Linked DNA regions of Homo sapiens. The protein of the gene in region 2 interacts with the protein of the main gene of each other region in a biochemical or structural test. Each region holds a gene or a part of one and is shown on either strand. Other genes may lie near its edges.

Evidence for each region.
Region 1: the proteins of SNTA1 (region 2) and SCN5A interact in a test that uses a peptide from one of them, tested with the Homo sapiens proteins (2 studies listed by BioGRID and IntAct).
Region 3: the proteins of SNTA1 (region 2) and KCNA4 interact in a test that uses a peptide from one of them, tested with the Homo sapiens proteins (2 studies listed by BioGRID and IntAct).
Region 4: the proteins of SNTA1 (region 2) and MAP4 interact in a test that uses a peptide from one of them, tested with the Homo sapiens proteins (2 studies listed by BioGRID and IntAct).

The regions. Positions count from the first base shown.
Region 1 is NC_000003.12:38,548,655-38,555,687, reverse strand, and holds part of SCN5A (sodium channel protein type 5 subunit alpha), read left to right. Parts: coding exon 1-32; intron 33-1,138; coding exon 1,139-1,409; intron 1,410-4,129; coding exon 4,130-5,367; 3' UTR 5,368-7,033. UniProt on the Homo sapiens protein: Pore-forming subunit of Nav1.5, a voltage-gated sodium (Nav) channel that directly mediates the depolarizing phase of action potentials in excitable membranes.
Region 2 is NC_000020.11:33,412,756-33,419,788, reverse strand, and holds part of SNTA1 (alpha-1-syntrophin), read left to right. Parts: intron 1-1,865; coding exon 1,866-2,070; intron 2,071-5,154; exon of another isoform or gene 5,155-7,006; coding exon 7,007-7,033. UniProt on the Homo sapiens protein: Adapter protein that binds to and probably organizes the subcellular localization of a variety of membrane proteins. May link various receptors to the actin cytoskeleton and the extracellular matrix via the dystrophin glycoprotein complex.
Region 3 is NC_000011.10:30,009,199-30,014,032, reverse strand, and holds the end of KCNA4 (potassium voltage-gated channel subfamily A member 4), read left to right. Parts: intron 1-572; 5' UTR 573-1,354; coding exon 1,355-3,316; 3' UTR 3,317-4,303; downstream 4,304-4,834. UniProt on the Homo sapiens protein: Voltage-gated potassium channel that mediates transmembrane potassium transport in excitable membranes. Forms tetrameric potassium-selective channels through which potassium ions pass in accordance with their electrochemical gradient.
Region 4 is NC_000003.12:47,915,391-47,922,423, reverse strand, and holds part of MAP4 (microtubule-associated protein 4), read left to right. Parts: intron 1-545; coding exon 546-659; intron 660-3,582; coding exon 3,583-3,705; intron 3,706-5,249; coding exon 5,250-6,473; intron 6,474-7,033. UniProt on the Homo sapiens protein: Non-neuronal microtubule-associated protein. Promotes microtubule assembly.

The DNA.
Region 1 (7,033 bases), on a different chromosome or scaffold from region 2:
AGAAGCCCCAGAAGCCCATCCCACGGCCCCTGGTGAGCCAGGCTCCTGGTTTTGTGGGAGTGGGGAGGATCTTCTGGGGTCCCTGGGAAGCTTTCGTGCCACATGGCCAGCCATCAGAGCCGCTTCACAGTCTTTCAGCCCAGCCTGAGGGGCACTATCAGATGTCTGATCATGAAGAGAGGTCCCAGCCTCGTAGAGATAGGGAGGAAGGTATGATAAGGATGTAGCATCCCAGGACACTCCCCACCCACAGGAACCCTCTGTACCTGAGCAAATCTCCTCCTTCCCCTCAAGGATGCAGGCTTTCCCCAGGAAAAGCAGTGCAGCCTTCACAGCCCCACCCCACCCCACTCACAGCCTCATCCTTGGAACCCCAGAACAGTCAGGGAGCCGGATTCCTGAGTCACCTGGTGGGGAGAGCCAAGAGCTCTGGAGAGCGGGGTCCTCTCCAAGACTGACTCCCTTGGCCCAATCAAGCCATTATCCAAAAAATTGTGTGTGTGTGTGTGTGTGTGTGTGTGTGTGTGTTATTTATAATCTTTTCCAAGTGGGAGAACAGAAGAAAAAAAAAAAAAAAAAAAATATATATATATATATATATATATATATATATATATATATATATATATAAAATCTTATTTCTTTCCCCAAATAATCTGGGCTGATTTACAATTAAAGACACATACAAATATGGTTAGTAGAATAAATAAAATAAATTCCATAAAAAAGTGGAGAAAATATATTAATCTAAGCACTGACATAATTACTAAGGTTGAAGTTTAAATTTGCCCTTGAGCCTTCAGACTGTGGGAACTAAAAGGGAAGCACAATGAACAGTGTGCTAAGGATGCTCAGGGCAGGAACAATCTCTCCCTGAAGATCCATCATGGAAGGCCTCATGGAAGATGGAGCTCTGGGGATGGGCCTTGAAGCCCAGGAAGCATTTCAGCAGGACAGCCAGTGGCTTTAGCCTCCAGGACTTTTTCCTCTGCACTCTCTGTGGCAGTGTTGCAGGGGCTTTGGGCTCACTAGAGGGTAGAGTGGGAGGGTGGGTGGTCTGGGATGAGAGGCAGCAACAGGCATTTGCCAGCCTCCCCAAGGGCCCTGCTGAGCACTTTCCATTTGCCTCTCCTTTCAGAACAAGTACCAGGGCTTCATATTCGACATTGTGACCAAGCAGGCCTTTGACGTCACCATCATGTTTCTGATCTGCTTGAATATGGTGACCATGATGGTGGAGACAGATGACCAAAGTCCTGAGAAAATCAACATCTTGGCCAAGATCAACCTGCTCTTTGTGGCCATCTTCACAGGCGAGTGTATTGTCAAGCTGGCTGCCCTGCGCCACTACTACTTCACCAACAGCTGGAATATCTTCGACTTCGTGGTTGTCATCCTCTCCATCGTGGGTGGGTATACAAGTCAGCTGGACGGAGAAGCCCTCCCCAGCCAGGCCTCTCCTCCAGCCCCTGGGTCTCTGCTGAATGCCATGTACAACCCTAGCTTCTTTCATAATTTTTTTCAGTGCATTTCTCACCCCCCTTCTCCCCTCACACATACACGCACACACACCTCTCCAGAGAGAACTTATCTGGAAGGCCCCACTTGGGCCAAGGAGACCAATCTGGCAGAGGACCCAGCACTTGCTCCTGGCCCCACCCTCCAGAGGAACTGGGAACACAGTTCTCTAACTGCTTAGAGAGCTTCAAGGATGAGTCTGGGAATGGGAGTGGGTGCTGTGGAGGCTAATTCTGCCTGCACTTAGGTTGAAGGAGAAGGAAGCTCAGGATGAGATGGGTCCCCAGGGATGGGGGATAGGTGGCCCTCCAGAGTAGAAATTATCCCTGAAGATGGAAAATTCTGGAGCTAACCGCCAAGGTGTATGCCAGACTCCTTCAGACATCACCTGCCTCATGCAATTCACCCAGTCAATTCAGCACCAAAGGAGGGAGATTGTGCAGCTAGGGAGAAGCAGAGACCCAATCCTGACCCATGTCTGTTTGACCTCGGAGCCCAGATCTTTTTTTTATATAACAGCTTTACTGAGACATAATTCACATACCATAAAATTCACGGTTAACTTTAAAGTCACTTTAAAGTATACAATTCAGTGTTTTTTAATATATGCACAGAGCTTTGCAACCATCACCACTATCTAATTTTAGAATATATTCCTTTCCCCAAAGGAAACTCTACCCATTTAATAGTCAATCCCCATTCATTTCCCCTCTCCCTCACCCCTGAAAACCACTTATCTAAAGTTTTGAGGGACCACCAAACTGTTTTTCAATATGGCTGCACCTTTTTACATTCTCGCTGTCAATGTATGAGGATTCCAATTATTTTGCCCTCACCAACACTTGTTATTGCCTGCATTCTTTTTATAGGAGCCCTCCTAGTGAGTATGAAGTGATATCTCACTGAGGTTTTGGTTTGCAAAAGCAAATGACTGATGACTAACGATGCAGGACATCTTTCCATGTGCATGTTGGTCATTTATATATCTTCCTTGGAGAAATCTCTATTCAGATCCTTAGCTCATTTTTAATTGGGTTATTTCTCTTTTTCTTGTTGAGTTGTAAGAGTTCTTTACATATTCTGGATCATAGTCTCTTATCAGATATATGATTTAAAAATATTTTCTCCTAGTCTGTGAGTTTTTTCATTTCCTAGTGGTGTCCATTAAAGCACAAAAGTTTTACATGTTAATGAAGTCCAGTTTACTTATATTTTTTCTTTTGTCACTTGTGCTCGGAGCCCAAACTCTTTAACTCTACCCCCAAGGGGCTCTGCCTTGCGGTGACTGTGACTTTCATCTTTCTGCCATATACAACCTCTGCCTCTGGTAAATGTAAAGGATAATGCAGGGGCTAAGGCAGGCACTGCTGTGGCTATAGTGACGGGAAGATGGAAGCACAAAGTAGGGTCAGGAATCTCTGGGGGGTCTCAAGCAGGATGAGGGTGAGAGCGTGCCTTATGGGACTGGAGAGGAGTTTTAGAGAATGCAGGATGTCAGCAGCAGGAATGGAACCATTGAGGGACAGTCTCAGAGGCTTTGGAAGGTTCAGCATGTACTTTGGGATCTCTCCTGGCCCGCTGTTTGGGCGGTACCAGAGAGGAGGAGTGGTTAAGAGATCAACTTGGAGCCCGAACGTCTGAGTCAAATCCCAGCTTCTCACTCACTAGGTGGCAACTTGGGTAAGTTACCTCACCTCTGTTTCCTCTTCTGGAAGATAAGGATGATGGCATCTGCTCACTTCCTAGGACAATGGGAAGGACTAAATGAAATGATGGCTATAAAGTGCTCGGCCCATTGCCCCAGTGATCGTAAACACTGGACCCATGTCAGTCAGTGACATTATTATATAAGGAGTCTGGAAAGGGCACTTGGGCCATATAAGACAAGTTTATTTCACTCTTTATTCCATGATTTATATCCATGCCCCTTAAAACTCCAAACCCAGGTAGTCACAGGAGACCCAGGGGCAGTGACGCCCTCAAAGGAGGCAGAGTTAGGAGAGCGATAAGAACCATCACAGAGAAGCTGAGAGAAGACACTGGCCATGGCGTGGCATCAGGGAGCACTGATTTCTGGGCCAGTGTTTCATGCCCTTCGATGGGCACATAAATCATCTGGGCTTCTTAAGATGCAATGGGCTGGGGTGGAGCTGAGATTCTGCATTTCTGATAAGCACCTAGGAGATCCCAAGGCTGCTGGTCCTCAAACCACACTTTGAATAGCAAGGAGCTAAAAGACCTGAGTTCTGGCCCAAGCTGGGTGGGCAAGATACTAAGCAGATCCCCTCTGGCCTGAGAACCCAAGATGTAGAAGATGGGCCTAGGACAGCTCTATTGTGTAGGTACACACTGAAGATTAAGGAATGAGGGGGCTGAGAAGGAACCCTGCAAAGGACCCATTTTTCTGGGTCACAGATGCAGACATGGAGACTCAAACAGACAGGAGCAGGCAGAGTCCTAGCATGCCCAGTGGACGCAATCCTGGAAGGGCCGCCTCTCCTTGGCTCCTTGCCATATAGAGACCCCCCCCCCACCGCCAACCCCTGCACAGTGATGCTGGCTGGAAGACAGAGGTGCCACCAGTAGCCACAGTCTCTGTTGTTTCCCACAGGCACTGTGCTCTCGGACATCATCCAGAAGTACTTCTTCTCCCCGACGCTCTTCCGAGTCATCCGCCTGGCCCGAATAGGCCGCATCCTCAGACTGATCCGAGGGGCCAAGGGGATCCGCACGCTGCTCTTTGCCCTCATGATGTCCCTGCCTGCCCTCTTCAACATCGGGCTGCTGCTCTTCCTCGTCATGTTCATCTACTCCATCTTTGGCATGGCCAACTTCGCTTATGTCAAGTGGGAGGCTGGCATCGACGACATGTTCAACTTCCAGACCTTCGCCAACAGCATGCTGTGCCTCTTCCAGATCACCACGTCGGCCGGCTGGGATGGCCTCCTCAGCCCCATCCTCAACACTGGGCCGCCCTACTGCGACCCCACTCTGCCCAACAGCAATGGCTCTCGGGGGGACTGCGGGAGCCCAGCCGTGGGCATCCTCTTCTTCACCACCTACATCATCATCTCCTTCCTCATCGTGGTCAACATGTACATTGCCATCATCCTGGAGAACTTCAGCGTGGCCACGGAGGAGAGCACCGAGCCCCTGAGTGAGGACGACTTCGATATGTTCTATGAGATCTGGGAGAAATTTGACCCAGAGGCCACTCAGTTTATTGAGTATTCGGTCCTGTCTGACTTTGCCGATGCCCTGTCTGAGCCACTCCGTATCGCCAAGCCCAACCAGATAAGCCTCATCAACATGGACCTGCCCATGGTGAGTGGGGACCGCATCCATTGCATGGACATTCTCTTTGCCTTCACCAAAAGGGTCCTGGGGGAGTCTGGGGAGATGGACGCCCTGAAGATCCAGATGGAGGAGAAGTTCATGGCAGCCAACCCATCCAAGATCTCCTACGAGCCCATCACCACCACACTCCGGCGCAAGCACGAAGAGGTGTCGGCCATGGTTATCCAGAGAGCCTTCCGCAGGCACCTGCTGCAACGCTCTTTGAAGCATGCCTCCTTCCTCTTCCGTCAGCAGGCGGGCAGCGGCCTCTCCGAAGAGGATGCCCCTGAGCGAGAGGGCCTCATCGCCTACGTGATGAGTGAGAACTTCTCCCGACCCCTTGGCCCACCCTCCAGCTCCTCCATCTCCTCCACTTCCTTCCCACCCTCCTATGACAGTGTCACTAGAGCCACCAGCGATAACCTCCAGGTGCGGGGGTCTGACTACAGCCACAGTGAAGATCTCGCCGACTTCCCCCCTTCTCCGGACAGGGACCGTGAGTCCATCGTGTGAGCCTCGGCCTGGCTGGCCAGGACACACTGAAAAGCAGCCTTTTTCACCATGGCAAACCTAAATGCAGTCAGTCACAAACCAGCCTGGGGCCTTCCTGGCTTTGGGAGTAAGAAATGGGCCTCAGCCCCGCGGATCAACCAGGCAGAGTTCTGTGGCGCCGCGTGGACAGCCGGAGCAGTTGGCCTGTGCTTGGAGGCCTCAGATAGACCTGTGACCTGGTCTGGTCAGGCAATGCCCTGCGGCTCTGGAAAGCAACTTCATCCCAGCTGCTGAGGCGAAATATAAAACTGAGACTGTATATGTTGTGAATGGGCTTTCATAAATTTATTATATTTGATATTTTTTTACTTGAGCAAAGAACTAAGGATTTTTCCATGGACATGGGCAGCAATTCACGCTGTCTCTTCTTAACCCTGAACAAGAGTGTCTATGGAGCAGCCGGAAGTCTGTTCTCAAAGCAGAAGTGGAATCCAGTGTGGCTCCCACAGGTCTTCACTGCCCAGGGGTCGAATGGGGTCCCCCTCCCACTTGACCTGAGATGCTGGGAGGGCTGAACCCCCACTCACACAAGCACACACACACAGTCCTCACACACGGAGGCCAGACACAGGCCGTGGGACCCAGGCTCCCAGCCTAAGGGAGACAGGCCTTTCCCTGCCGGCCCCCCAAGGATGGGGTTCTTGTCCACGGGGCTCACTCTGGCCCCCTATTGTCTCCAAGGTCCCATTTTCCCCCTGTGTTTTCACGCAGGTCATATTGTCAGTCCTACAAAAATAAAAGGCTTCCAGAGGAGAGTGGCCTGGGTCCCAGGGCTGGCCCTAGGCACTGATAGTTGCCTTTTCTTCCCCTCCTGTAAGAGTATTAACAAAACCAAAGGACACAAGGGTGCAAGCCCCATTCACGGCCTGGCATGCAGCTTGTCCTTGCTCCTGGAACCTGGCAGGCCCTGCCCAGCCAGCCATCGGAAGAGAGGGCTGAGCCATGGGGGTTTGGGGCTAAGAAGTTCACCAGCCCTGAGCCATGGCGGCCCCTCAGCCTGCCTGAAGAGAGGAAACTGGCGATCTCCCAGGGCTCTCTGGACCATACGCGGAGGAGTTTTCTGTGTGGTCTCCAGCTCCTCTCCAGACACAGAGACATGGGAGTGGGGAGCGGAGCTTGGCCCTGCGCCCTGTGCAGGGAAAGGGATGGTCAGGCCCAGTTCTCGTGCCCTTAGAGGGGAATGAACCATGGCACCTTTGAGAGAGGGGGCACTGTGGTCAGGCCCAGCCTCTCTGGCTCAGCCCGGGATCCTGATGGCACCCACACAGAGGACCTCTTTGGGGCAAGATCCAGGTGGTCCCATAGGTCTTGTGAAAAGGCTTTTTCAGGGAAAAATATTTTACTAGTCCAATCACCCCCAGGACCTCTTCAGCTGCTGACAATCCTATTTAGCATATGCAAATCTTTTAACATAGAGAACTGTCACCCTGAGGTAACAGGGTCAACTGGCGAAGCCTGAGCAGGCAGGGGCTTGGCTGCCCCATTCCAGCTCTCCCATGGAGCCCCTCCACCGGGCGCATGCCTCCCAGGCCACCTCAGTCTCACCTGCCGGCTCTGGGCTGGCTGCTCCTAACCTACCTCGCCGAGCTGTCGGAGGGCTGGACATTTGTGGCAGTGCTGAAGGGGG
Region 2 (7,033 bases):
CAATCACAAGCAAAAAGGATGGAATGATCATGATTTGATTTGACCAATCAAGATTCTCCCTCTAAGCTGGGGAGAAGCTGAGCCTCTAGGGCTCAGGGTTCTCTTAGCAAAGGAAAAAGAGGGGAGATGGTTTTTGGCTGTCAAGTAGGCTGTGATATGTCCCACTTCTGCTGCCCTTTGAGACATAATCCAATAGTCAGTCCTGGGGTAAGTCGTTGCTACAGTGATGATAAGTCATTTGAGTCCTAGTCCCCAAAAGTCAGACCCAGGCTTGCTTCTCCCAAAAAAACCTGACCCTGGTTTCTTTCAACATTGCTTCTATCCCAACCCCAATAGGGTTTGTAACTCCCTCTTATTTGCCTCCATTTGCTTTGAATCCTATCTGAGCCTCAGAGGCATCTCCTGCGACAGAAATAGCTTCTTATCTGGTTCTTCCAGGGAGGTGGGCCAAGAATTACTTCCTAACTCCTTCCTGGGCTGTCCACTCACAGGGCACGTTGGCTGGGCTTTGACTGCAGACGTCAGATAGCTAGCAAGCCAGATGGCCCTGGGAGCAGGTGTGGTTGAGAGCAGAGGAAGAGAGGCTGCCCACGGGCTAGCAGGCATCAGGCACCCACAGAGGGTATATCCTTGTTGGGAGAAGAGAGACAAGGTCTTGGGAAAGTCATCATTTTTTTTTTTTTGAGGCAGTCGCACTTCATCGTCCAGGCTGGAGTGCGCAATCTTGGCTCATTGCAACCTTTGCTTCCCATGTTCAAGTGATTCTCATGCCTCAGCCTCTCGAGTAGCTGGGATTACAGGCATGCACCACCCTGCCCAGCTAACCTTTGTATTATTAGTAGAGACAGGGTTTCACCTTGTTGGCCAGGGTGGTCTTGAACTCCTGACATCAAGTGATCCACACTGCCTTGGCCTCCCAAAGTGCTGGAATTACAGGCATGAGCCACCATGCCCAGCCTGGGAGTCTTTTTTTTTTTTTTTTTTTTTTTTTTTTTTGAGACAGAGTCTTGTTATGTCACCCAGGCTGGAGTACAGTGGCACAATCTTGGCTCACTGCAACCTCCTCCTCCCGGGTTCAAGTGATTCTCCTGCCTCAGCCTCCCCAGTAGCTGGGATTACAGGTGCGAGCCACCACGCCCGGCTAGCTTTTGTATTTTCAGTAGAGACGGGGTTTCACCATGTTGGTCAGGCTGGTTTCAAACTTTTGACCTCAAATGATCTGCCCGCCTTGGCCTCCCAAAGTGCTAGGATTACAGGCATGAGCCAACATGCCCAGCCTGGGAAAGTCTTGTAACCACCTTCTTGTATACACTGTCTAGGAGTTCAAGACCAGCAACATGGCGTGACCCCATCTCTACAAAAAATTAATAGCTGGGTGTGGTAGTGCGTACCTGTAGACCCAGCTACTTGGGGAGCTGAGGTGGGAGGATTGATTGATCTGGGAGATTGAGGCTGTAGCGAGCTGTGATCACACCATGGCACTCTAGTCTGGGTGACAGAGAGAAACTGTCTCAAAAAAAAAAAAAAAAAAGTCACATGGCCACACCTCACTGCAAAGGAGGCTGGGAAATAGAGTCTTTCTTCCAGGTGGCTGTATGTCTATTAACCATGGGGAAAATGAGAGAAGGGATATAGGCGGGCCCTATCTCTATATAGGGATAGAGAGAAGGGATACAGTATTTTCTGCTCCACTGCCCTGTCAGAGACTTTAACTTAGAAGAATTTGTTAATATCACTACTGGACTCTTGCTTACTAAGGGTCTAATAGTGACACGTAAATTAAACTCTTAATAAATTAGTGACAATTGTGATATGTGCTGGGAGCCCATGTCACAGTGGTGACTGCTGATGTCTCTCCCAATCAGTCAAGTATATGAAGGACGTCTCACCGTATTTCAAGAACTCTACTGGTGGGACCTCGGTCGGCTGGGACTCACCTCCTGCCTCACCCCTTCAGCGGCAGCCTTCCTCCCCTGGCCCCACACCCCGGAACTTCAGCGAGGCCAAACACATGTCCTTGAAGATGGCATATGTCTCGAAGAGGTGCACCCCCAATGACCCGGAGCCCAGGTAAGGCTGGGGTTGGGAGCAACTCAGATGGACAGATGCCCTGGCGTCAGGTGGTGGGACCAATGGAAAGACACCTCTGTGTTGTACGAATGACCAGCACAATGCCAGGACATAGTAGGTGCTTAAAAAATAGATTGACTGGAAGCCTGAGTGAAGCCATGGAGATGATGGTGTGCTTTGCTTCTCACTTCTTCCTCTGGGCAGCTCACATCTGGGGATGAACTTGGTCTGAGGAAGAACCCTGCGTTCCAGTCCTGGTCCTCTTTGAACTAGGCCCTTTTCCTCACTGACCTTTAGATTCTCCATTGTGAGATGAGGTTGTTGGACTCACTGATCCTCTCGTCTCTTCCCACTCTGCTGGAGCTCTGAGATGTCTGGTAACCTTTTTATCAGGGCCATGGAAGGTTACATCCTTCACATCTGAGCAGCCTTTAACAGTTCATTGATAATACTGAAACCACCTAACATTTACTGAGTGTTTACTGTGTACCCAGCACTGTGTTGAGTGCTTTCCCTGTGCAATATTATTTAGCTCTCACAGAGGCCCAATGGGCAAAGTCCTATTATTTCACCTCCATTTTATTTTATTTTATTATTATTTTTGAGCCAGAGTTTTGCTCTGTCGCCCAGGCTGGAGTGCAGTGGTGCAAAGATCTTGGCTCACTGCAATTTCTGCCTCCTGGGTTCAAGTGATTCTCCTGCCTTAGCCTCCTAAGTAGCTGGGACTACAGGCGCCCACCACCACACCTGGCTAACTTTTTTTTTTTTTTTTTTTTTTTTGACAGAGTCTCACTCTGTTGCCCAGGTTGGAGTGCAATGGCATGATCTTGGCTCACTGAAACCTCTGCCTTCCAGGTTCAAGCAATTCTCCTCCCTCAGCCTCCCAAGTAGCTGGGATTACGGGCGCCTGCCACCATGCCTGGCTAATTATTTGTATTTTTAGTAGAGACGGGATTCTCCATGTTGGTCAGGCTGGTCACGAACTCCTGACCTCAGGTGATTCCCCCGCCTCAGCCTCCCAAAGTGCTGGGATTATAGGTGTAAGCAACTGTGCCCTGCCTAACTTTTGTATTTTTTGTAGAGATGGGGTTCCACCATGTTGGCCACGCTGGTTTCGCACTGCTGACCTCAGGTGATCTGCCTGCCTCGGCCTCCCAAAGTGCTGGGATTACAGGCATGAGCCATCGTTCCCGGCTCACCTCCATTTTATAGATGAGGACAGAGAGGGGAAGTAACCTACTTGAGATCACACAACCAGAAAGGGTGGCACTTGCCTCAATCCTGGTAGTCCTTTCTGCTTTGGAAGGTGCAAGATACCTGAGTGATGGTGGTGGCTAAATGGAGCATATTTGGTCAAGTGGGATATGCATTGTTGGAGGTGATGCTTAACTGCTATATGCATTACAAGCTTGGGCTGTGGGTCCTAGTGACAGCCTAGGTTCAATGCCAAGCAAATGCCCAACATTGGCTGGGAGGGCTGGTTAACGTCCAGCATCCAAATCTCTTGGTCTCACTCGATGCCACACCTCTTGCCTGCCCCCATGAGGCAAAAACTGGTGATTCACAGGTCACTTGCCGATGCTCTAAAAAAGAGCCTTTGTTTTTGTTTTTGAGACGGAGTATCGCTCTGTTGCCCAGGCTGGAGTGCAGTGGTGTAATCTTGGCTCACTGCGGTCCCCTTCTCCCGGGTTCAAGCGATTCTCCTGCCTCAGACTTCTGAGTAGCTGGGATTACAGGCACCTGCCAACATGCCCAGCTAATTTTGTATTTTTATTAGAGATGGGGTTTCACCATGTTGGTCAGGCTGGTTTGGAACTCCTGACCTCAGGTGATCCGCCCACCTTGGCCTCCTGAAGTGCTAGGATTACAGGCATGAGCCATCGCCTGTATTTTTAATAGACTAATTTTTGTATTTTTTTTTTTTTTGGGACAGAGTCTTCTCTGTTGCCAGGCTGGATGGAGTGCAGTGGTACAATCTCAGCTCACTGCAACCTCCGCCTCCTAGGTTCAGGCAATTCTCCTGCCTCAGCCTCCTGAGTAGCTGGGACTACAGGTGCACGCCGCCATGCCTGACTAATTTTTTTTTTTTTTGTATTTTAGCAGAGACGGGGGTTCACCATGTTGCCCAGGCTGGTCTTGAACTCTTGAGCTCAGGCATTCTGCCTGCCTCGGCCTCCCAAAGTGCTAGGATTACAGGCATGAGCCACCGCGCCCGGCTGTATTTTTACTAGAGACAGGGTTTCACCACATTGGCCAGGCTGATCTCAAACTCCTGACCTCAAGATCCACCCACCTTGGGCTCCCAAAGTGCTGGGATTACAGGGGTGAGCCACCATGCCCGGCCCGGAAGGGCCTTCTGTGAGTGTGAAGGTGAAGTAGTATTAGTCCTTCTAGAGACTCATAGAACCTTAGATTCCCAGCCTGATCCCAGACATTACCTGAAACGTGTGTATATGTTTCTAAGTGTGCGCACGTGTAGATGACATGTAAATGCAAGTGCTTGTATGTATATATGAGAGCATTTGCATGTATGAGTATAGATTTGTACATGTGTGTTTGTTTATATGTTATTTGTATGTGTATGCACATATGTGTGTGCATGTGTGTTTTAACATGTACATGCCTGAGTACCTACATAGGTAACCTCAATATAACTGGGGTTCCATATGGCCCACTGTCAGTGCAGTATCCCAGTCATAGGGATACAGCCTGGCAACCAAAATATAATGAAAACTGCTTCAAACTTTTACTCAGTGTTAGGATTGCACTGGGCTGCAAGTACAGAAACTCCAACAAGCAATGACTTAAATAAAAGGGGTTAATTTTCCCACATGTTTAAAAAGAAGTCCAGGGGTCAGCTATTCAGGCTGCTGTAGATGCTCAAGGATGCCATCAAGGAACTAGGCTTCTAGCTTCCTGCTCTACCATTTTAATTATGGGCGGTTTTCTTCTTCGTGGAGGCAGGATGGTGGCTGCATCCCAAGAATTGTGTTCATATTCCAGGCAGAAATAAGACAAAAGCCAAAGAGTCTTTTCTGCTAGTATTTTGGCTATCTGTTGCTGTATCACAAACCAACCCTAAAATTTAGTGGTTTAGAAAACAATAATTTATTATTTCTTTTTGAGATGGGGGATCTCGCTCTGTCACCCAGGCTGGAGTGCAGTGGTGTGATCTCAGCTCACTGCAACCTCTGCTTCCCAGGTTCAAGTGATTCTGGTGCCTCAGCCTCCCAAGTAGCTGGGACCACAGGTGCCCGCCATGACGTCTGGCTAATTTTTTGTGTTTTTAGAGGAGATGGGGTTTTGCCCTGTTGGCTAGGTTGGTTTTGAACTCCTGGCCTCAAGTGATCTGCCCGGCTCAGCTTCCCAAAGTGCTGGGATTACAGGTGTGAGCCACCATGCCTGGCCTCAAGCCTCTTTAGTTTTGTTGTTGTTTTGTTTTTCTGTTTTTTTTTTTTTTTTTTTTTTTTTTTGGTTTTTGAGACGGAGTTTCGCTTTTGTTGCCCAGGCTGGAGTGCAATGGCACGATCTCAGCTCACTACAACCTCCACTTTCTGGGTTCAAGCGATTCTCCTGCCTCAGCCTCCCTAGTAGCTGGGATTACAGGCATGTGCCACCACACCCAGCTAATTTTGTATTTTTAGTAGAGATGGGGTTTCTCCATGTTGATCAGGCTGGTCTTGAACTCCCTACCTCAGGTGATCCACCCGCTTTGGCTTCCCAAAGTGCTGGGATTACAGGCGTGAGCCATCACACCCTGTCTGTTTTTCTGTTTTTTTAAGATGAGGTCTTGTGCTGTCATCTAGGCTGGAGTGCACTGGCACCCTTATAGCTTACTGCAGCCTCAAACTCCTGGGCTCAAGTGGTTCTCCTGCCTCAGCCTCTAAGTAGCTGGGACTATAGGCACGTGTCACCATGCCTGGCTAATTAAAAAAAAAATTTTTTTTTCTTTTTTAGAGATGAGTGTCTCACTTTGTTGTCCAGGCTGGTCTCGAACTCCTGGGCTCAAGCCATCGTCCTGGCTCAGTCTCCCGAAGTTCTGGGATTACAGGCGTGAGCCACCATGTCCAGCTTAGTTTTTTTTTTTTTTTTCCCCTGCTCTTATTAGTGAATTAGTTTGGTTCTGTGCAACAAGGAGAACCTGGGAGCTGGCCCAGAAGAGGATGTTCCTTAGAAACCAGGAGAAAGGGGCAAGATTAGGAATAGCCACACAGCAATAATTTAGGCCCTATTACACCATCATGCATGTTTCAGTGTGTGTGTATATTTGTGTGTATCTGCATACGTGTAGGCTGGGCACGGTGGCTCATGCCTGTAATCCCAGCACTTTGGAGGGCGAAGGCGGGGTGATCATTTGAGGTCAGGAGTTCGAGACCAGCCTGGCCAACTTGGTGAAACCCCATCTCTACTAAAAATAAAAAAATAAGGCCAGGCATGGTGGCTCATGCCTGTAATCCCAGCACTTTGGGAGGCTGAGGCAGGCGGATCACGGGGTCAGGAGATCGAGACCATCCTGGCCAACATGGTGAAACCCCATCTCTATTAAAAATACAAAAATTATATGGGTGTGGTGGCGTGTGCCTGTAATCCCAGCTACTTGGGAGGCTGAGGCAGGAGAATCACTTGAACCTGGGAGGCAGAGGTTGGGCCATTGCAGTGCAGCCTGGGTGACAGAGCGAGGCTCTGTTTCAAAAACAACAACAAAAACCCCACAAAATATATGAACACGTGTGTATATGTCACACTCGCTTGTTCCTATGCCCCATGAAGCCCCAGCAACTGTGGCTGGAGCCCAGCAGTGAGGGTTGCTCCTGATTCTCTCACGGACATCCCCCTGGTTTCTCCTGGTTTGGTGGTGGGTGGGGTTTCTTGGGCCAGGGTTGGGCAGCTGCAGCCTAATGGTCAGGTCCTTGTCTCCACCCATTTGTGCCTGCAGGTATCTGGAGATCTGCTCGGCAGATGG
Region 3 (4,834 bases), on a different chromosome or scaffold from region 2:
TTGTGTTATTATTTGTACTTTATAGATGAGGTGACTGAAGTGCATTCAAGTGGTGCTGTCTGCACAAAGAATAAGAATATTATTATTTTTTTTTCTGACTTCCCCAGTGCTGAGTCAAGATAGAGAGGAGTAGAAGGGCACTTAATTCAGAAACACTTTATGAGTGGAAATTTTAAAAATTGCCTTGAAATAGATGAATGATGGAAGCAGCTGTAAAGTCACAGCATTATTTTTTGTGGAATGAAGAGAGTGACAGTGAGAATTAAGACCTAGCATTGGTGAAGGGGAAGATAGAAGCAAGAGCCATGTGGGCCATGAGTGGAGAGAGGAAAAATAATTGAGTTACCATAAAAATAAACTGAGCTGAAATAATAACTGAAGAAGGAAAGAATGATGTTTAGTGAGTGAGAATAGCCTGCCCCATACTCTTGAAAATATTGGTGCTTGGTGTGTTATATGACTTTCTTGAAGAAAAGAGAAGGATGTGTATGTGAAGAGAAATGCTCAGTTTGCTCTTTATGATTTGTTTCCTTTTTATTTTTCTCCTATGCTTCTTTCCAATCCTTTTTCAGGTGAAGTGCTTCTTCTGCATGATTTTGGCTGAAGAATGCTCTGCATTTCCTTGATTTCTATGGAGACCTCAGAGCTGGTTTTGCTTCTGCTGACACCTCATCTAGCACCTTCTCTACCTCCCAGGGTCTTTGCCTCTATCTGTGGTTTGGCATTGTACCTGGGTACAGGAAGCCTTTGATGAACTTAAAAGGAGAGCCTGGAGAATCATCCTGATAGACTTTGAGTAGAAATGGCTGGACATACTTCAAACCACATCTTAACATGGTTCGAGCCATCACTAGAAGGCAAGTGCTAACAGTAAAGGCTTATTTGCATTTTATTTACATTTAATGGACTGAGCATTGGCCAATTTCCATGGCAGAAAAATATATTTCATTTTCTAGGCACAACTTCTGGCTGTCAGACACTTGCTGCCTTTGAATCTTGCAGCAACATCACTAACCACATCCCAGACATATTTCCAAATTTCAACATCTACCCCCAAAACATAGGTGTCTGAGAGACTCCAGCATTTTCGGACTTCTTAGTCTTGAGAGTGCCAGGCTATTTATCTCGACCAGCCAAGCTCTGGAGAGCAATGTTGAATCCCTGAGAAGAGAGAGCATGGGGCGTGCTGATTTAAAAACAGAAAATGCAAAGTTGGACTGAAAATATCCTTAGTCTTCCAAGCAATCTGCTTAAGGGTTCCAAACTTACCTTAATTTGGTGAGAAAAGAAGCTGCCCTATTTTTCTTTCTTCTTCTTCTACAACTGGAACCAGCCATTTCCGAAAACCACCACCATGGAGGTTGCAATGGTGAGTGCGGAGAGCTCAGGGTGCAACAGTCACATGCCTTATGGTTATGCTGCCCAGGCCCGGGCCCGGGAGCGGGAGAGGCTTGCTCACTCCAGGGCAGCTGCAGCAGCTGCTGTTGCAGCGGCCACAGCTGCTGTCGAAGGTAGCGGGGGTTCTGGTGGGGGCTCCCACCACCACCACCAGTCACGCGGGGCCTGTACCTCCCATGACCCTCAGAGCAGCCGGGGTAGTCGGAGGAGGAGGCGACAGCGGTCTGAGAAGAAGAAAGCCCACTACCGGCAGAGCAGCTTCCCTCATTGCTCTGACCTGATGCCCAGTGGCTCTGAGGAGAAGATCCTGAGGGAGCTGAGTGAGGAGGAGGAAGATGAGGAGGAGGAGGAAGAGGAGGAAGAGGAGGGAAGGTTTTACTATAGTGAAGATGACCATGGTGATGAGTGTTCCTACACGGATCTGCTGCCTCAGGATGAGGGCGGTGGCGGCTACAGTTCAGTCCGCTACAGTGACTGTTGTGAACGTGTGGTGATAAATGTGTCAGGCCTACGCTTTGAGACCCAAATGAAAACTCTGGCCCAGTTTCCAGAGACTTTGTTGGGAGACCCTGAAAAGAGGACTCAGTACTTTGACCCTTTGCGCAATGAGTATTTTTTTGACAGGAACCGCCCCAGCTTTGATGCCATCTTGTATTATTATCAATCAGGAGGCCGCCTGAAGAGGCCAGTCAATGTCCCCTTTGATATCTTCACTGAGGAGGTGAAGTTCTATCAGTTGGGGGAGGAGGCCCTGTTGAAGTTTCGGGAGGACGAGGGCTTTGTGAGAGAAGAGGAAGACAGGGCCCTCCCCGAGAATGAATTTAAAAAGCAGATTTGGCTCCTCTTTGAATATCCAGAGAGCTCCAGTCCTGCAAGGGGCATAGCCATTGTGTCCGTCCTGGTCATCTTAATCTCCATTGTCATCTTTTGCCTGGAAACCTTGCCTGAGTTTAGGGACGACAGGGATCTCGTCATGGCACTGAGTGCTGGCGGGCATGGTGGGTTGTTGAATGATACTTCAGCACCCCATCTGGAGAACTCAGGGCACACAATATTCAATGACCCCTTCTTCATCGTGGAAACAGTCTGTATTGTATGGTTTTCCTTTGAGTTTGTGGTTCGCTGCTTTGCTTGTCCCAGCCAAGCACTCTTCTTCAAAAACATCATGAACATCATTGACATTGTCTCCATTTTGCCTTACTTCATCACACTGGGCACTGACCTGGCCCAGCAACAGGGGGGTGGCAATGGTCAGCAGCAGCAGGCCATGTCCTTTGCCATCCTCAGAATCATTCGTCTGGTCCGAGTATTCCGGATCTTCAAACTCTCCAGGCACTCCAAAGGCCTGCAGATCCTGGGCCACACCCTCAGAGCCAGCATGCGGGAACTGGGCCTTCTGATCTTCTTCCTCTTCATTGGGGTCATCCTCTTTTCTAGTGCTGTGTATTTTGCAGAGGCGGATGAACCTACTACCCATTTCCAAAGCATCCCAGATGCATTTTGGTGGGCTGTGGTGACCATGACAACTGTGGGCTATGGGGACATGAAGCCCATCACTGTAGGGGGCAAGATTGTCGGGTCCCTGTGTGCCATTGCGGGTGTCTTAACCATTGCTTTGCCAGTGCCAGTGATTGTCTCTAACTTTAACTATTTCTACCACAGAGAGACTGAAAATGAGGAACAGACACAGCTAACGCAGAATGCAGTCAGTTGTCCATACCTCCCCTCTAATTTGCTCAAGAAATTTCGGAGCTCTACTTCTTCTTCCCTGGGGGACAAGTCAGAGTATCTAGAGATGGAAGAAGGAGTTAAGGAATCTCTGTGTGCAAAGGAGGAGAAGTGTCAGGGAAAGGGGGATGACAGTGAGACAGATAAAAACAACTGTTCTAATGCAAAGGCTGTGGAGACTGATGTGTGAATCTTTTTCCACCTGCCACTGCTCCCCCCTCAGCATCTCCAAATATATTTATGCATAGAGAGTGCAGTTATGAAAATGAAATATGCAAATGATCCAATGCATACAGTAGTACACTATTTAATGGTTATACATGGCATAATTGTTACTAAACTTGTATTACATATCAAATAAATGATACATCTTGGAGAAGAGGGAGGAATAGGAGCAAATCTATCTTTATATTTTTATTAGAATGCAAGAATTTTGCACATTAACTGGAAAAGATGTTAACAGTAAAGATGGAGAGAGAGAGTGTGTGCGTGTGTGTGTATATGTGTGTGTGTGTGAAGTAAATTGTCAATGTTAGTAATTGTGCAGTGAAGGGAAAAGTTGGCATTTTGAAGTATTTACTATGTAAGAACTAATGAATCTGAGCAGTCATTTATCAGTGCTTTAACAGCATATCGTATGTCTTTGGATTCTGTAGTTGTTTTTTAAAAATTGTAAGAAATACTGTGTAGAGAAAAAAGAAAGTAAATTATTTAATAGACTATAGGTCACAATTTTATCTTGGATTTAATTAAAATTTATTTTTAACTGGAAATTAACTTTTAAAAAGGCTGCAAGGGCCTTTAGAAATTGATTATATTTTGTTATTAATTTTGGGAAGACTTAACAGCAAATGTCTAACATTATAGAATAAGTGAAATTGGAGAATATGTAATAAGTTTTGTTTGCAGGTAACAGGACTGGATTTTTTTTTCTTTGCACTACTTTATATGCTGGAGATTGAGAGAGACTTCAAACTGTGAATGTTTACTAATGTAACAGTTCAATGACAATCATTGGAAGAATGATTTCTTTAGTCTTATTTTATTGTTTTCTTTTCATTGTGTGAGACTAATGATCATGCAGATAACATCACAGGATTCTCTCCTCTTTTAAAATCTAAATAACTGATTGACAAAGGAATTATGAAGTAAAATTTAGCAACTGAATCTTTTGAAATTGGTCTGTTAGAATGATGCTTCTGAAATCATACTATTTTATATATTCTTCTGCCTTTTAACTCCAGAATAATTTAACCAAAGTTAATGCATGCACTGAAAGAATTCTTGAAGAAGATGCCAAGCAGCTACAGTGATTATGGCTTAAAATTTTTCTATTAAATGTGAAACATAAACGCTAGATTTATTAAGTTTATTTTTTTGTGCAGTTATATAAGAACAGAATTTGGGGATTAACCTCAGATTTTAACATTATATTTGCTAAAATGGACATAAGGAAGAATTGTGTCAAACATTTGGTTTCAACATCACCATCATTATTATCTTTATTAAAGGAATTTATGACACATATAACTGCATTTAAGTCATGACAAAGCATTCTAGAATGTGAGATAACAACTAGCGATCAGCCTTGCACTATGAAATCATGAGGTATAGGTTAGAAAACTCAGAATGCATAAGAGGCCTTATTCTACAATGTTTATTTAACTTCTGTTCTTTATAAAATGATTGTCTTGAGCTCTGGTTGGGG
Region 4 (7,033 bases), on a different chromosome or scaffold from region 2:
ATTTGTTGGCTATCTGATGTACATAACCAAATCTTAGAGAAGGGATTATTTATTATTAACTCATAACAAATGAATTAGTGAATATTGATTCTCTACCATGTGCAGTCACATATGATTTCGGTTTACTTACTATTGACAACTCATCTATATTCATCATAGGATAATAAGAAATATTGGCCAGGCATGGTGGCTCACGCCTGTAATCCTAATACTTTGGGAGGCCGAGGTGGGCAGATCACTTGAGATCAGGAGTTTGAGACTAGCCTGGCCAACGTGGAGAAACCTTGTCTCTACAAAAAAATACAAAAATTAGCCAGGCATGGTGGCGGGCATCTGTAATCCCAGCTACTTAAGAGGCTGAGGCAGGAGAATTGCTTGAACCTGGGAGGTAGAGGTTGCAGTGAACCAAGATGGCACCACTGCACTCCAGCCTTGGCAACAGAGCAAGACTCCACCTCAAAAAAAAAAAAGAAAGAAAGAAAGAAATATTAATCTTTCTAGTTGCATTCACCAGGAATGAGTTTTGGATTTCTTCTATATTCCAGATCCCTTTAAGATGTACCATGATGATGACCTGGCAGATTTGGTCTTTCCCTCCAGTGCGACAGCTGATACTTCAATATTTGCAGGACAAAATGATCCCTTGAAAGACAGTTACGGTATGGCTTCTTCAAATGGATTTATTCTGTAGGGAAGGAAAAAAATTTTTTCTTTACTCATCTTTGGTTCACTGACTAGGGCTCTGTGACAAAAGATTAACAAGAAAAAAGAGACCAAAGTTTAAAATGTGAATTTAATATGTACATGAGAGGTACCTAGGGAATGAGTAACTCCGCAAGAGGTGGCTTTAGAATTCCACCTTATATAGCTTCTTCAATAAAGAATGACAAATTTTTTTTTTGAGAGGTGAGAAGATGAAGGAAAAGACTTTTGAGTCTCTAGGGGCCGCAAATTGTGGGAGACAGGTAAATGGTAGGTAAAAGCTAGTTAGTAAAGGTTGCTGTGTAGATTCCTATGGTGCCATCTCCAGGCTAATAATAGCCTTCAGCTTAAAAAAGTCCTTATGCCAAAGTAGCGTATTTTGGGGTGGCATATTCTGGTGTCCTTTAGTTGTTTAATGCCAAACAATCAACATGGCCTTTCACACATCACCTTTGAAGCTAACCACTAAGAAAAGTCAGATTTAGGGGCTGTGGGTGTGACAAGGCTCTCTTTGGATTAATCAAAGGAGACAATTCACAGATTCACAGTTGGGCTGTCATCTCCCCTTTTTTTTGAGACAGGGTCTCACTCTGTCACCCAGGTTGGAGTGCAGTGATGCGATCACGGCCCACTGCAGCCTTGGCCTCCTGGTCAGGTGATCCTCCCACCTCAATCTCCTGAGCAGCTGGGATTACAGGTGTGTACCACTATGCCTGGCTAATTTTTTGTAGAGATGGGGTTTTGTCACGTTGCCCAGGCTGGTCTTGAACTCCTGGGCTCAAGTGATCCACCCGCTTCAGCCTCCCAAAGTGCTGAGATTACAGGCGTGAGCCTTTGCACCCAGCCACATTTTTCTACTTCTTCATTTACAGGCAGACACAGTGGCTCATGCCTGTAACCCTAGCACTTTGGGAAGCTGAGGTGACAGGATTGCTTGAGCCCAGCAATTTGAAACCAATCTGGGCAACATAGGGAGATCCTGTCCTACAAAAAATTTTAAAATTCATCCAGGCGTGGTGGCACATGCCTGTAGTCTCAGCTACTCAAGAGGCTGAGGTGGAAGGATTGCTTGAGCCCAGAAGGTCGAGGCTGCATTGAGCCATGATCATGCCACTGTACTCCAGCCTGGACAACAGAGTTGAGACCCTGTCTTAAAAAAAAAAAAAAAAAAAAAAAACCATCTGGGTGCAGTGGCACACGCCCGTAATCCCAGCACTTTGGGAGGCCAAGGCGGATGGATCACTTGAGGCCAGGAGTTCAAGACCAGCCTGGCCAAAATGGTGAAATCCCGTCTCTACTAAAAATACAAAAATTAGGCTGGGCCTAATGGCTCATGCCTGTAATCCCAGCACTTTGGGAGGCAGAGGCGGGCAGATCACCTGAGGTCAGGAGTTTGAGACCAGCCTGGCCAACATGGTGAAACCCCATCTCTACTAAAAATAGAAAAATTAGGCCGAGTGTGGTGGCTCATGCCTGTAATCCCAGCACTTTGGGAGACGGAGGTGGGCAGATCACCTGAGGTCAGGAGTTCGAGACCAGCCTGGCCAACATGGTGAAACACTGTCTCGACTAAAAATACAAAAATTAGCTGGGAGTGGTGGCAGACACCTATAATCCCAGCTACTCAGGAGGCTGAGTCAGAAGAATCACTTGAACCTGGGAGGTGGAGGTTGCAGTGAGCTGAGATTGTGCCATTGCACTCCAGCCTGGGCAACGAGCAAGAATCCATCTCAAAAATTAATAAATAAATATAATAAAAATAAGAAAATTAGCTGGGCAAACAACAACAACAACAACAACAACAAAACTGCTACAAAGTATTTTAATAAAATTGTCTTCTAATGTTGGAAAGGGAGGTGTTAATCTCATTTTGCAGATGAAGAAATTAAGACTCGCAGTTTTTTACTATAGTATATTATGTTGGTTGTGGTGTTGGAACTAGAGTTCAATCATTAATATTTTGAATCTTTATATTACCCTTTATATATTATATAGAAAGTAGCCAGTGAATGTTGATTAATGGCACTACTGGGATATACTATACCACCTACTAACAACTAGCTAAAACCTGAAGAATGTCAGCAGTGTTTCCTTTAAAACTTGTTTGCGTTGTCGGCCGGGCGCGGTGTCTCACACCTGTAATCCCAGCACGTTGGGAGGCCAAGGCGGGTGGATCATGAGGTCAGGAGTTCGAGACCAATCTGGCCAACATAGTGACACCCCATCTCTATTAAAAATACAAAAAAATTAGCCAGGTGTGGTGGTGTGTGCTTGTAGTCCCAGCTACTTGAGAGGCTGAGGCAGGAGAATGGCGTGAACCTGGGAGGCAGAGATTGCAGCGAGCCGAGATCGTGCCATTGCACTCCAGCCCAGGCGACAGTGCGAGACTCTGTCTCAAAAAAAGAAAAAAAACTTTTTTTGCATTGTTTTTTATTAGTCTGTGTCTTCCTGGCAATATATGCAGCTGATTTTAAATATCAAATACCTCTTAGGCCGGGCGCGGTGGTTCACGCCTGTAATCCCAGCACTTTGGGAGGCCGAGGCGGTTGGATCAAGAGGTCAGGAGATCGAGACTATCCGGGCTAACATGGTGAAACCCCGCCTCTACTAAAAATACAAAAAATTAGCCGGGAGCTGTGGCAGGCGCCTGTAGTCCCAGCTACTCGGGAGACTGAGGCAGGAGAATGGCGTGAACCCGGGAAGCGGAGCTTGCAGTGAGCCGAGATCACGCCACTTCACTCTGTCTGCGTGGGCAACAGAGCGAAACTCTGTCTCAAAAAAAAAACAAACAAAACAAAACAAAACAAAAATATATCAAATACCTTTTGTTTCCAATGTTTACTAAGTTTCAAAATGTATTTGTTTGTGTTTCAATATTAGGTATGTCTCCCTGCAACACAGCTGTTGTACCTCAGGGGTGGTCTGTGGAAGCCTTAAACTCTCCACACTCAGAGTCCTTTGTTTCCCCAGAGGCTGTTGCAGAACCTCCTCAGCCAACGGCAGGTAAACTATTAGAGACTCCCTTTATCAGTTAATGGTTGCAGTATTGGTAATCAATATAAATCATCAGGTGTATTTTTTAGCAGCTTACAGCAGGTATAAAAATTTCAGAACAATCACAAATGTTTTGCTTATATTAGTGATATCACCACTGGAGGAATTAAATTGTTGAACTATAACACTTAGGGTTAACGGGCACATAAATACTTTTTTTAAATTTTTTAACATATATATATTTTTTTCATCACATTTTCATTGTATTAGGTATCAGAATTTTTTTTTTTAATTCAGTACAGATTTACGGCCTGGTGTGGTGGCTCACACTTATAATCCCAGCACTTTGGGAAGCTGAGGCAGGCAGATCACTTGAGGTCAGGAGTTCCAGACCAGCCCAGCCAACATGGTGAAACCCCATTTCTACAAAAAATACAAAAATTGGTCTAGGCACGGTGGCTCACGCCTGTAATCCCAACACTTTGGGAGGCCAAGGCGGGCAGATCACCTGAGGTCAGGAGTTCGAGACCAGCCTGGCCAACATGGTGAAACCCCGTCTCTACTAAAAATACAAAAAATTAGCTGGGCGTGGTGGCAGGTGCCTGTAATCCCAGCTACTAGGGAGGCTGAGGCAGGAGAATCACTTGAAACCGGAAGGCAGAGGTTGCTGTCAGCCGAGATTGCGCCACTGCACTCCAGCCTGGGTGAAAGAGCTAAATAAATAAATAAATAAGCTCAGCGTGGTGGCGTGTACCTATAATCCCAGCTACTAGGGAGGCTGAGACAGGAGAATTGCTTGAACCCGGGAGCCGAGATCATGCTACTGCACTCCAGCTTGGGCAACAGCGTGAGACCGTGTCTCAAAAAACAAAAACAAAAATTCAGTACAGATTTAGAACTCTGGAGTTTTTCTTGATAGGAAGCATGACTGACCTGCTGTCCCACAGATTATCTTTCTAATACTAATTCTGTGCCCGTGTTATTTTTGAAGCCTATGTTTTCTCTCTTCTTTGCCATTTCTCCTCCACTACTTGTCCTCCCAGTATTTTACATCTTATTCTTCCAAGTGTTGAGACTGTCAAAGAGTAGGCAGAATATGTTACTTGACATTAGCTTCTTCTTCTTTTTTTTTTTTTTTTTTTGAGACGGACTCTTGCCCTGTCCCCCAGGCTGGAGTGCAATGCCGTGATCTCGGTTCATTGCAAACTCCGCCTCCTGGGTTCTAGCAATTCTCCTGCTTCAGCCTCCCAAGTAGCTGGGATTACAGGCGCCTGCCACTGCATGGCTAATTTCTGTATTTTTAGTAGAGACAGGGTTTCACCATGTTTGTCAGGCTGGTCTCGAACTCCTGACCTCAGATGATCCATCCGCCTCGGCCTCCCAAAGTTCTGGGATTACAGGCGTGAGCCACTGTGCCCGGCCTAACATTAATTCTTAGTTATGTGTACAGTCTTATGGTCACAAAAGCCAAATACTCTCATGCCTGAAGAAAGTAAGCATTTTTAATGCAAAGGTATGAGTAGACAATGATGTGTCCTAAATTTCCAATTTAGTTCCCTTAGAGCTAGCCAAGGAGATAGAAATGGCATCAGAAGAGAGGCCACCAGCACAAGCATTGGAAATAATGATGGGACTGAAGACTACTGACATGGCACCATCTAAAGAAACAGAGATGGCCCTCGCCAAGGACATGGCACTAGCTACAAAAACCGAGGTGGCATTGGCTAAAGATATGGAATCACCCACCAAATTAGATGTGACACTGGCCAAGGACATGCAGCCATCCATGGAATCAGATATGGCCCTAGTCAAGGACATGGAACTACCCACAGAAAAAGAAGTGGCCCTGGTTAAGGATGTCAGATGGCCCACAGAAACAGATGTATCTTCAGCCAAGAATGTGGTACTGCCCACAGAAACAGAGGTAGCCCCAGCCAAGGATGTGACACTGTTGAAAGAAACAGAGAGGGCATCTCCTATAAAAATGGACTTAGCCCCTTCCAAGGACATGGGACCACCCAAAGAAAACAAGAAAGAAACAGAGAGGGCATCTCCTATAAAAATGGACTTGGCTCCTTCCAAGGACATGGGACCACCCAAAGAAAACAAGATAGTCCCAGCCAAGGATTTGGTATTACTCTCAGAAATAGAGGTGGCACAGGCTAATGACATTATATCATCCACAGAAATATCCTCTGCTGAGAAGGTGGCTTTGTCCTCAGAAACAGAGGTAGCCCTGGCCAGGGACATGACACTGCCCCCGGAAACCAACGTGATCTTGACCAAGGATAAAGCACTACCTTTAGAAGCAGAGGTGGCCCCAGTCAAGGACATGGCTCAACTCCCAGAAACAGAAATAGCCCCGGCCAAGGATGTGGCTCCGTCCACAGTAAAAGAAGTGGGCTTGTTGAAGGACATGTCTCCACTATCAGAAACAGAAATGGCTCTGGGCAAGGATGTGACTCCACCTCCAGAAACAGAAGTAGTTCTCATCAAGAACGTATGTCTGCCTCCAGAAATGGAGGTGGCCCTGACTGAGGATCAGGTCCCAGCCCTCAAAACAGAAGCACCCCTGGCTAAGGATGGGGTTCTGACCCTGGCCAACAATGTGACTCCAGCCAAAGATGTTCCACCACTCTCAGAAACAGAGGCAACACCAGTTCCAATTAAAGACATGGAAATTGCACAAACACAAAAAGGAATAAGTGAGGATTCCCATTTAGAATCTCTGCAGGATGTGGGGCAGTCAGCTGCACCTACTTTCATGATTTCACCAGGTACGTGCTTGTGCTTATTCTCAGTATTTCTCTCTACCAGGTTGTAGTCTCGAGAAGACTAAGGACAAACATCATGCCAGGTAAAGTACAGACAGTCACACTGTACTTTGCAAGTTTATTCATACTCCTGCTCTCCTAGACAACTCTTTCCCGCCTTTACCCTCCTCCCACCTCCAACACCTTTTCTATGTTCATTCTCTGCTGATTGTCCTGTTTTTCTTGCAGATAAGTCAAGCAATAAAATAGAACATCGACAAACTTCTATTCCATTATCTACCCAACTACTTGTATCTGTATCCATGGTCTCTGCTTATGAAAGTTCCCGTTTTTATAAGTAAACTGTTCCTGCTCCTAATTAAGACCAACCTCTCCTCATTTTGCCCTAGATTCCATCTCCTCTTTCCTACTCGATATATTGCCCCATGTATTCTTCCCTTTTTTGCCCCTCATACCAATTTAAATCTTTTTTCATTGGATCATTCCCACCCATTTAACAAACGTTTGTTATTTTTCCCATCTTAAAAAACGAAACATTGACCGGGCATGGTGGCTCACACCTG